Linked DNA regions of Homo sapiens. The protein of the gene in region 1 purifies or fractionates together with the protein of each later gene. This does not show direct contact. Each region holds a gene or a part of one and is shown on either strand. Other genes may lie near its edges.

Region 1 (3,748 bases):
TGCTCTTTGGATACAACAACAGGTATTAAAGTATTCTCTTCCAAGCCTGCTAAAGTTATATCTGATTCATAACAAAATTTTACATAGGTATTTCAATGTATCAATATTTTGTGGCATTAATACAAAGAGAAATTTGACGTCCCAGAAAAATATTTACCTAGATAAATTCAGAACATTTGGTTCACACATGTAATCCCAGTATTCTGGGAGGCTCAGGCACGAGGATTGCTTGAGCCCAGGAGTTCGAGACCAGCCTAGGCAACATAGTGAGACCCTGCCTCTAGAAAAAAAAAAAAAAATTAGCCAGGAGTGGTGGGATTTCCCTATAGTCCCAGCTACTGGGAAGCTGAGGAGATCTCTTGAGCCCAGGAGGTCGAGGCTGCAGCCAGTGGTGACCGTACCACTGCACTTCAGAATGGGCAACAGACTGAGACCCTGTCTCAAAAAACAAACAAAAACAGAAAAACCCAAACCAAACCAAACCAAACCAAAAAACCCCTAACACTTGCAAATAGAAAGCTATGTGGTAATAACATCCATTAACTTGACACATCTTGTTTTGACATCATAGTGTCACTTACTGTTTCAATGAAATGGTAATGAAAGAATATAATAAAGTATTGCAAGTTGAATGCTTGAAGGTAATTGGAATAAAAAGTTTAAAAAAATTTTGCTTTTTCCGGGACTTCAATTTGAAGTAAATGAGTTAATTACTACATGGTAAGTGTCATAAGAGTACAATATTTATTAGCCTGCAGTAGGTACACGTGGACAGGAAGACTTTTCAGCGGTCCACTCCCCCAAGAGGGAATTTTCATTTCCGCGAGGTTACAAATGTTCTTCACTACAGGAAAACTCAACATAGAAGCTCATGTTCTGGGGACTCAAATAACAGTCGTAATACATGAAAACTGTAAAGGATATTCTGCATAAAGGGTCGTTAACATCTCACAGGCCAAATAGCCCTCTCAGAAACAACTAGGAAAGGAAAAAGTTCCCTTGGAGCTGTGCGTTTGCGTATGTCCGTGTGTGTATACAACTGAGGGAGAACGAATACGAGAGAGGGAACTCGAGTCTGAAGTACTGTGGTGTGGGCAGGGTGACATGTAATACTGAAGGAAAGAAGTCTGCTGGTGAAGTAAGAGCCACAGTTAATTTTCCGAAAGGAAGATGAGTAAGTGCACCTGACGTTATTCTACGAAAGCTGCTTCTGCAGGGTGGGAATGTTGGGAAGCAAGGTCTAGTGCGACAGAATTGAAAAGGTGGAGAGCAGGTGATTGCTGGATCCCTAATGCTCAGCAAGGGGGACGCATCCACATAACGTGAGAACGAACGAATGAATGAACGCTGCATAAAAGCAGCTTTGGCTTGGGGAAGGTAAGAGTCTGCAGAGAAGGTCTTGGGGAGAAAAAGCAAAGAAAACCGAGGGAAGAGGCCGAACCCTTAGTGTCAGGAGGAGGGGTGGCTGCGGGGTTAGTGAGGGCACTGACCAGAGAGAACTCGGTGCCGGGCCAGTTGACTCGGAAAGGGATGTCATCGCTGAGTTGAGGAAGGGCTCGGCCGCCGCCGGACGCCTCCAGGAGGCCGCAGAGGACCAGTAACACCGGCCCGCCCGGGACCAGACTCCGTACGCCGCCGCCTCCTTCCTCCATCCTCCGCCGCCGCTTTCTCCAGCCACCGCCACAACCTCCTCTGCTCCAGGAGGAGAGGAGGAGGAGGAGGAGGTGGAGGAGGAGGCGGCGGGACTATAAAGCGCCCGGGTATCACCGGCCCAACCGCCGCCACGTCTCCTTCCGGAGAGCCCGGCAACGCCGCCTCCGCCCCCTTGAGCCTCCTGTCACCGTTTCCGGGGCAGACGACATATCAACATCCGGGGGTCGCGGAGCCGTCCGCCTACGGGGGCCGGGACGTCGCCTGCGCGTCTCTCGTTTTCGGACGGCTGCAGCATCGCGGTGGGGATCGAAAGCGGGGGCTTCTGGGACGCAGCTCTGGAGACGCGGCCTCGGACCAGCCATTTCGGTGTAGAAGTGGCAGCACGGCAGGTCGGTGAGTCTCGGAGGCGGCAGCCGCTTCCTGAAGCCATTCCCGCTGCTCTCCAGTGGGCAGGCAGAGGTTTGACCCACACGGAGTGATAGCGGGAAGAAGACAGTGTGAACCGTGCGGGTGCGGGTCCTTAGATGAGAAAATTCGAAGTAGCGATGAGATGTGAGAAATGGCGGTGTTCCTGACTGACCTGCCTTCTTGCAGCTTTTCTTCTTTTTCTCCGCATTTGGCATTTGTACACTTCATTTTTCCCGCTTGAGGCTTATCTCCATCTCTTCTGCTGTGGACCGTGGCCATCTCGTTACTTAACAGCTTCTGACTAACGCAGGGCAGTTTGTTCAGCGACTGCAACTCTGTGTTAGGGGAAACCTGGGGTGAGGTAGCCCGCCATCTCCCCGTAGGTGAATACCGCAAGCCTCCGAATTTGGCGTGGTGGGCGACTCTCGTGGAATGGGCAGCTAGACATCACAACCCTACATTTTTACCCTCCATCTCTAGATTGAAGTGTTGGGGTGTTGTTTTATCAAGGAAGCTGGTAAGGTTCCTTATGTGAGGTTTAGCGCCAGATGAATGTGTGTGTTTATGAACTAAGTCACGTCTGACTGCATCCCCAAATTAGACAAAAAGTTTTGTTTTTCCCTCCCCCTCTTTAGAAAAAATGCCATTGTCTGTTTTGATCTCCAATATAATGGACATAGAGTGTTGGCTTTAGAGAAATTACCATTCCCTAAAGCTCGACAGTCTTGCTAGATCTGTTAAAGACTGGTCGCCCCCACTTCCTCAGATTTGAACCAAATCAAAAAGCAGGAAGGACAGTCCCATATTCTATCTTAAAAATTTTTTTTTAACATCAGGAATCCATAGTATCAAAGAAGATAACTTTCTTCAGAATTGTTATTCGCTAATTATATTCAGCACTTCTTATTAATGCTTAATGTGATCCAGACTCCTGGGATTTTTGTTGTTGTTGTTTGTTTTGAGACAAAGTCTCGCTCTGTCACCCAGGCTGGAGTGCAGAGGCATAATCTTGGCTCACTGCAACCTCCGCCTCTGGAGTTCAAGGGATTCTCCTTTTTCTCAGCCTTCCGAGTAGTTGGGATTACAGGCGCGCGCCGCTACACCCTAATTTTTGTATTTTTAGTAGAGGCAGGGTTTCACCACGTTGGCCAGGCTGGTCTCGAACTCCTGACCTCGGGTGATCCGCCCTCCTCGGCCTTCCAAAGTGCTGGGATTACAGGCCTGAGCCACTGTGCCTGGCCCCCCTGGGCTTGGTAAAATGCCAAATAAATGGGTTTCTGTCTTTGGTCACACAGTCTAGGCAGGGAGATTGTACAAACAAATAATTGCAAACTATTATAGTAGTAATAGTCAATTTTTTTTTTTTTTAGCATTTATTCTGTGCTAAGCACTAGTCTTAAGTCATGAAGGAAAAGAGATGTATTTGACGGAATAAAAATGAAAACTGTCTGTGAGGTCCTGTTTTAGCATTTAGGGCTATAGTGATTGAATCTGTGTTCAATAGAGCTGATGTTCAAGTAAGAGGGGAACTTAAATAAGTAAAATAATTTCTAGTATTGGTAAGTGCTGCAAAGAAACTAAGGTTATGTGAAAGACAATACCTGTAGGATGTGTTGCTTTTAGTACGTAAGTCAGAGGAGACTTCTGTGAGGAAGTGACATTTGAATTGTGACTTGAATGATGAAAA
Region 2 (3,748 bases), on another chromosome or scaffold:
GGGGATTATCCAGCTCCCCTTTCCCATATGGAGCCTTAAGGGTTAGTGTATCCTGATAGGGGGATCCCTAGGACTTTCATCCAGGTCTCTTCTTTCTTTCATAGTGAAGATGAGGCCCAGGATGTTGTACTGGCATGAGTGCCAAGAGACCATGGCCCTTTTCATTTCCTATTCTCTTTCCCCTGATCCCAACCATTGTTTGCAAAGATGGACTGGTGATCCCATTGGTGGAGCTGTCAGCAAAGCAGGTGGCATTTCATATCCCATTTGAAGTGGTGGAGAAAGTTTACCCACCAGTGCCTGAGCAGCTACAGCTCCGAATTGCTTTTTGGAGCTTCCCTGAGAATGAAGAGGACATTCGGTGAGGCCAAAGGACTGATGGTGGGGAGCGGGGTCCTGATACTCCACACTGTCTGCTGGGTTTCCCATAGAACAAAGGAGACATTGTATTTGGGGCAGTGGTAAGAGGAAGACAAGGGAGGGATTGCCTGGGATTCCACTCCCTCCCCCCCACCCCCCGCCCTGGGGAAGGAATGAGGCTAGGGAGAGAGTGCCTAGGGCATTGTGGTCTCTGACAGGGTCTGCCAAAGGTTATTTGCTGAGTTGTGGCTGTGTCCTCTTCTTCACCCCCAGGCTGTATTCGTGCCTGGCCAATGGCAGTGCGGATGAGTTTCAGCGAGGGGATCAGCTCTTCCGCATGCGGGCTGTGAAGGACCCATTGCAGATAGGTGAGTGGGCCATCATGCCATGTGGCACATCCTGCTCCTCCCATCCCCTGGCTTATGAAGTAAGAACACACCGCAAGAAGCTGGAGCATGTTGTCTGAATAACTGCAGGGCCAGGGTCAAGGGCAGAGACCCAGGTCCTGACAGCACTCCCTGACCATGCCCCCATTTCTCCCCAGGGTTCCACCTGAGTGCTACAGTGGTGCCACCTCAGATGGTCCCTCCTAAAGGGGCCTACAACGTGGCTGTGATGTTTGACCGCTGCCGGGTCACTTCCTGCAGCTGTACCTGTGGGGCTGGGGCCAAATGGTGCACCCACGTCGTGGCACTCTGTCTCTTCCGCATCCACAACGTGAGGCCCTCCCAATTTATCCCGGCCCTATCCTACACTCCATCCCCCCCTTCTCTGCTGCATGCCTGGCTACAATGTGAGCCCCCTCGCCTCGCCTACTCTGCCTCTCTGTCCCCCAGCTCCAGCTCCAGCAAACCTGTTCTCAGATTGTTCCATTTTTCTCTGTGTCCCCTTCAGGCTTCTGCAGTCTGCCTGCGAGCCCCAGTCTCAGAGTCCCTGTCCCGGCTACAGAGGGACCAGCTGCAAAAGTTTGCTCAGTACCTCATCAGTGAGCTCCCTCAGCAGGTGGGTGAGGTCGGCACCCCCTCCTGCAATTAGCTCCGGGCCAGGCCGCATAACAGCCTTCCTGTTAGGCCCAGGCCTCCATGGGTTCACCTAGGCCGTGTTCTGCCTGCCTCCGTCTCTTTCTCCCTCAGATCCTCCCCACAGCTCAGCGTCTCCTGGACGAACTCCTGTCTTCCCAGTCAACAGCCATCAATACAGTGTGTGGAGCTCCGGGTGAGTGTGGTGAGAAAGATTGGCAGTAGGAAGAAAGCCAGCTTGTAGTACAGAGCGCCATTTACTCAAGGCTTGCTGTTGTCAGGCAAATCCAGGCCCCTATCTCTAGATGACTGACTGCCTGTCATCCTCAGACCCCACAGCAGGGCCCTCAGCATCGGACCAGAGTACTTGGTATCTGGATGAATCGACACTCACTGACAACATCAAAAAGACACTGCACAAGTTCTGTGGCCCCTCCCCTGTGGTCTTCAGGTAAATCGGATCTCTGCATACCTGTGTCTGTGGTGGAGGGGGAGCGTCCCTCAGGCTGATGACAGATCCTTTCTTCTATTCATGCCTGTGACCCCTACCTTTTATTCCCTGAACTGGCACAGTGCCTGGCACACAGTTGTCACTAACGAATTGATGGAAGATGATGACCTTGTACAGTCACAGAGTGGTCTGCTCTTACCTAGCAAGAGTTCCTTTTCTTCTTTTGATAGATCAGGAAATGGAAACAGAGAAAGATTTTTTAAAGAGTTTTTGTGGCTGGGGGCGGTGGCTCATACCTATAATCCCAGCATTTTGGGAGGCTGACGTGGGCAGATCACCTGAGATCAGGAGTTCGAGACCAGCCTGGCCAACATGGCGAATCTCCATCTCTACTAAAAAAACAAAAATTAGCCAGGCGTGGTGGCGGGCGCCTGTAATCTCAGCTACTTGGGAGGCTGAGGCAGGAGAATTGCTTGAACCCGGGAGGTGGAGGTTGCAGTGAGGTGAGATCGCGCCATTGCACTCAAGCCTGGGCGACAGAGCAAGACTTGGTCTCAAAAAAAAAAATTTTGTTACAGATGTCTTTTTCCCTCTATCTTCTGTATTTTGGGGCCGGAAGCCCTTTTAGGTTTCATTCAGCCCCGTCTTACTGTCATGGTTTTCTGTTCCTCTGCTTTTACAGTGATGTGAACTCCATGTATCTGTCTTCCACGGAGCCGCCAGCCGCTGCTGAATGGGCATGTCTGCTGCGCCCTCTGAGGGGCCGTGAGCCAGAGGGCGTCTGGAACCTGCTAAGCATTGTGCGGGAGATGTTCAAGCGGAGGGACAGCAATGCTGCCCCCTTGTTGGAAATCCTCACTGACCAGTGCCTCACCTATGAACAGGTAATCACTCAGCGTTGGGGAGCCCCGTGGTAGCTCATTCTTTCCCTCCCCCTGCCTCATCCTCCTCTTGCTGAAATGGACTCTGGGAGGGCTACTCTGCCTTTCTCTGAGCTCTCAGGTGCAGCTCACAGCCTTCTTTGTCTCCAGATAACAGGTTGGTGGTATAGCGTACGTACCTCAGCCTCACACAGCAGTGCCAGTGGGCACACGGGCCGTAGCAACGGGCAGTCAGAGGTGGCAGCCCATGCCTGTGCCAGCATGTGTGACGAGATGGTCACACTGTGGAGGCTGGCCGTGCTGGACCCTGCACTCAGCCCCCAGCGGTGAGTCTCCCCTGAGGCTCACCACAGAACTGAGCCTGGGCCAGCTCAGGACAGACTGAGCCTTCATCTCCTTGTTTGCAGAGACATACCATGATTTTAGTCCTCGGGAAACGGGAGGTGCTGAGCACTGGTGTTAGCAGTGATTTACGAGTCCTTTTTCTGAGAGGCTTTCATCCTTCCTTCCCCTAAATAACACCCACTTTTCAAAATTCTCCAGTGTTTCAGTGATGCTTATGGGGCTGGGTCAAGAAGTACTTTCCTGTATCCTTTCCCCATGCCTCTCTTTGGGGTGTACACCTACTCCATGCCCATCCTTTCCCAGTAGCCCCTCAGCAGCCTCCTGCCCCTTGTTCCCACAGGCGCCGGGAACTGTGTACGCAGCTGCGGCAGTGGCAACTGAAGGTGATTGAGAACGTCAAGCGGGGCCAACACAAGAAGACGCTGGAGCGGCTCTTCCCCGGCTTCCGGCCAGCGGTGGAGGCCTGCTACTTCAACTGGGAAGAGGCCTACCCACTTCCTGGTGTCACCTACAGCGGCACTGACAGGAAGCTGGCACTGTGCTGGGCCCGGGCCCTGCCCTCTCGGCCAGGTGCCTCCCGCTCTGGGGGCCTGGAGGAATCCCGGGACCGGCCCCGACCCCTTCCTACTGAGCCAGCTGTGCGGCCCAAGGAGCCTGGGACCAAGCGAAAGGGCTTGGGTGAGGGGGTCCCC
Region 3 (3,748 bases), on another chromosome or scaffold:
TCGACCTCTCAAAGTGCTGGGATTATAGGCGTGAGCCACCATGTCTAGCTGCTTTTCTTTTTTAATATTGGAATTTGACTCTAATAATTTTATTGTCTGTTTAAAGCAAGTGGACTATTGCTGGATCTTAGAAGTCTTTCAGCTATGTAAAGATTTGTGTAGCACATTTTGACATATACAGTTAACTGCTTAGGGGTTTTGTATCTCTGAAAACCTTTCCATGTAACTACTTTATCTTTGTTGTTTTTCCTTACAGAGTGAGTCTGTAGAACATTTGTAGGGATCTGATATTATAATTTTATCTTCTGTTTTAGATTACTTTGAACATGTAATTGTGATTGTTCCTTTTCTTTTGCAATTATCATCTGGGCCCTTAGTGCTCATTTTTTTCATTTCCAGTTTATTGTTCCACCCCAAACAGCAATTGTTTAAACCTTTTCTTGCTGAGCCTCACCCCTCTTAATTCTTAGTACATTACTTTACCCAGCTATTTGAAGTGCCCTTAACTTCCTTGGTCGATACCAAACATTTTTCTTGTTTCTCCTATGTTCTTCTCTGTTCCATGCTACCTCCCAAATTGTCTCATTCTGCTTGTTCTTTTTCAGTCCTCATCTTCCCCCCAGGACTTGGTGGTATGTCCCCTCTTACTTTTTTTTTTTTTTTTTCAGTTTCCCTTTTTTCTCCTATGCCTATAAGAAAGTTCATATGTCGCGTCATATAAACTTTTCTTTTTTTTGGAGATGGAGTTTCGCTCTTGTTGCCCAGGCTGGAGTGCAGTGGTGTGGATCTCCACTCACTGCAACCTCCGCCTCCCAGGTTCAAGCAATTCTCCTGCCTCAACCTCCTGAGTAGCTGGGATTACAGGCACACGCCACCACACCCAGCTTATTTTTGTATTTTTAGTAGAGACGGGATTTTACCATATTGGCCAGGATGGTCTCAAACTCCTGACCTCAAGCGATCCGCCTACCTCGGCCACCCAAAGTGTTGGGATTACAGGCGTGAGCCACTGCACTCTGCCTCCTCATACAAACTTGTACTCTGCCTCTGCCTCAAACTTCTGTTTCTCACTGTCACAGTTCTTGGAAAAGCAGCCCCCATTTGCTGCCTTTATAATTCTTTGCCCTTTAACTTAATGATATGGCTTACTCTTCTCTCCCACCCAATTGTATAGAACCTGTCAGTCATAAAAGTATTAGCAACCTCCTGATTATCAAATGAGATTCTTCTCTGATAATATTTATCCTCTTTTCTGGTATTATTGCTCATTTCCTCTGCTTCTCTTTTGGTTTTTATGACATTCCCTCCTTGGTCTTCTCTCTCTCAAATCACGTTTGTTTTTCACTGACTTCCCTCCCCTGTCCCCAATAGAATTATTTCTCAGGATTTTATCTTCAGCCCTTTTCTATCTTTGTATATTTTTTTCTGGGACAGTCTTAACTCCCATGATTTCACTATTTTTATCTCTTAGCTCTGATCTGAGCTCTAGATCAAAATGCAGTTCTCACCATATCACTTTCCTGTTCAGATACCTTTGATGATTCAAATTATTTGAGATCTTTCCAGCTGGGTCTTCTCCTGATAACTAGTATTCTCTCTCTCTGTCTCTTGTCTCTCTCTCTCATACATGTGTGCGTACACACTCCTACTTAGCTGGTTACTTGTTGGCTCACTAGCATGCCAGAGGTCGTCATCTCCCTAATAACTAACTCTTAACTTTCATTCTCTCTCCTTCTGATTGGATCTAGTGAGATGGAGGCACAAGAAGGCAGTAGTATATAACCGAACCACAAGATAAATCAAACTTTAAACTGAAATATGATTCATACTACTTTTCTCAGTGGACTTTTTTTTATCCTTTAAGAGGAAAGAAAATGGAAATGTAAAGCAGTGATTCAGAGTGTCTATAGAGGCCGGGCATGGTGGCTCATGCCTGTAATCCCAGCACTTTGGGAGGATGAGGTGAGAGGATTACCTGAGGCCGACCTGGGCAATGTAGCAAGACCCTGTCTCTATAAAACAACAACAATAAAAAGTGCCTGTAAAAGTTATTCATTATTAAAATAACTTTATTGACATCCATATGCAAGGTACCATGGAGAATGCAAAGATATGTAGAACAATGTCCATGCTCTTTGGGAATTTACCATATGCTAAAGGAGAGTAAAAGGTACTAATGATTTATGATAAGGCAAAAGTTTCAGATGTGTTACCAACTGCTCTATGCTCCCTCACAGATTGAGGAAATAATTTCTGGTGGGATGATCAGTGAAAATTTTATGGAGAAAGTGTTGGAGCTGGATTTTGAATAAAGTGTTGGAGCTGGATTTTGAATAATGGGTAAGCTTTTTGTATTGGTAATTAGGAGAAAATTTGGTAGGAATCTAGGCTAGATCAGTGTGGCTGCAGTGTAAGCAGGGCTGCATGCTGTGTTAGATATTCTATATGAATAGTGTTCCTTGGGATTGTTGCAGCATAGAAACCCAGAATACAGGGAAACAACAAGAGGGATAGGAGTGAAAGGGAAGTCGGGTCAGATTACAAAGGGCCTTCAGTGCTAGGCAAGGGGTTTGAAATAAAGTTCTATAGTTACTGAGGAATATTTGAAAAATATGTGGGCAGAGATACTCTCAAGCCCTCAATCTATTTTTGGCTTTTACACATAAATAAAAGTTATTATATTTTCTGTATATTTATAATCTGCTTGTGAGATTGGCCATGGATGAGGGGCATTTGTGCCAGTGACATCTTGTTCATTGAAACCGTAACCATAGCAGGAGTAATTAAGTCTATGGGAAATACATTTATTCATTGAACGAGAATTTAGTATTTCCTAATTCTAACTAGATAATGATGAACTAGGCAGACAGCTCCTGCCCTTGTATAATTTACATTTTTGTTGGGAAGAGAGACAATAAACATAAACAGTGAAATACATACTGTAAGTCAAGTTGTGATAGGTACTATGAATAAAAACAACCAGGGTAAAAGAGAGAGTGCTCGGTGCTCTTATTATTATTATTATTTTTATTTTTATTTTTGAGACGGGGTCTCACTCTCTTGCCCAGGCTGGAGTGCAGTGGCACGATCTTGGCTCACTGCAACCTCCACCTCCTGGGTTCAAGCAATTCTCCTTCCTCAGCCTCCCGAGTAGTTGGGATTACCGGTGACCACCACCATGCTCGGCTGATTTTTGCATTTTTAGTAGAGATGGGGTTTCACCATGTTGGCCAGGCTAGTGTTGAACTCCTGACCTTAAGTGATCCTCCCACCTCAGCCTCCCAAAGTGCTGGGATTACAGGCATGAGCCATCACAGCTGGCTTATTTTTGATAAGATAGTGAGGGAATGCCTCTGAGGAGATAATAGTTGAGGTAAAACCAGAATGAAGCAAGGGAGCAAGTCATGTACATATTTAGAAGAGTTCCTTGTAGAGGGAACAGCCAGTGTGAAAGCACAGAGTCAGGATCATGCTTGGCAAGGAATATGGATGTGATACGAAGATTTGAATATCATCGGTGAATGTGGTTAAGGTGCATAACCAGAGAATTCTTTTTAATATGTCTAGTTAAACATAAATGAGAACCTTATTAAGAACTTGTCAATTTTTCATTGGGTTGATAGAAATTGCCCTCTTGAAACGTATATCTAAGAGGGACATGGGCCTTAGAGCGGCCTTCCCCTCCTTCAGTGTACTGTCCTAGAGAGATGGTTGCATTCGACACAGCCTAGGGAGGAAACAAATTTCA

The links.
Region 2: the proteins of ASB3 (region 1) and ZSWIM8 purify together in Homo sapiens (affinity purification with mass spectrometry, with the first as the bait; 2 studies listed by BioGRID). This does not show direct contact.
Region 3: the proteins of ASB3 (region 1) and CUL5 purify together in Homo sapiens (affinity purification with mass spectrometry; 7 studies listed by BioGRID). This does not show direct contact.

The regions. Positions count from the first base shown.
Region 1 is NC_000002.12:53,785,115-53,788,862, reverse strand, and holds the start of ASB3 (ankyrin repeat and SOCS box protein 3), read left to right. Parts: upstream 1-1,909; 5' UTR 1,910-2,042; exon of another isoform or gene 2,043-2,578; intron 2,579-3,748. Other genes in the region: ERLEC1 (endoplasmic reticulum lectin 1 isoform 1 precursor), read right to left, coding at 1,491-1,652. UniProt on the Homo sapiens protein: Probable substrate-recognition component of a SCF-like ECS (Elongin-Cullin-SOCS-box protein) E3 ubiquitin-protein ligase complex which mediates the ubiquitination and subsequent proteasomal degradation of target proteins. Recognizes TNFRSF1B.
Region 2 is NC_000010.11:73,788,463-73,792,210, forward strand, and holds part of ZSWIM8 (zinc finger SWIM domain-containing protein 8), read left to right. Parts: intron 1-207; coding exon 208-361; intron 362-633; coding exon 634-728; intron 729-904; coding exon 905-1,077; intron 1,078-1,254; coding exon 1,255-1,362; intron 1,363-1,493; coding exon 1,494-1,575; intron 1,576-1,709; coding exon 1,710-1,830; intron 1,831-2,512; coding exon 2,513-2,714; intron 2,715-2,861; coding exon 2,862-3,037; intron 3,038-3,396; coding exon 3,397-3,748. UniProt on the Homo sapiens protein: Substrate recognition component of a SCF-like E3 ubiquitin-protein ligase complex that promotes target-directed microRNA degradation (TDMD), a process that mediates degradation of microRNAs (miRNAs).
Region 3 is NC_000011.10:108,011,876-108,015,623, forward strand, and holds part of CUL5 (cullin-5), read left to right. Parts: intron 1-3,748. UniProt on the Homo sapiens protein: Core component of multiple cullin-5-RING E3 ubiquitin-protein ligase complexes (ECS complexes, also named CRL5 complexes), which mediate the ubiquitination and subsequent proteasomal degradation of target proteins.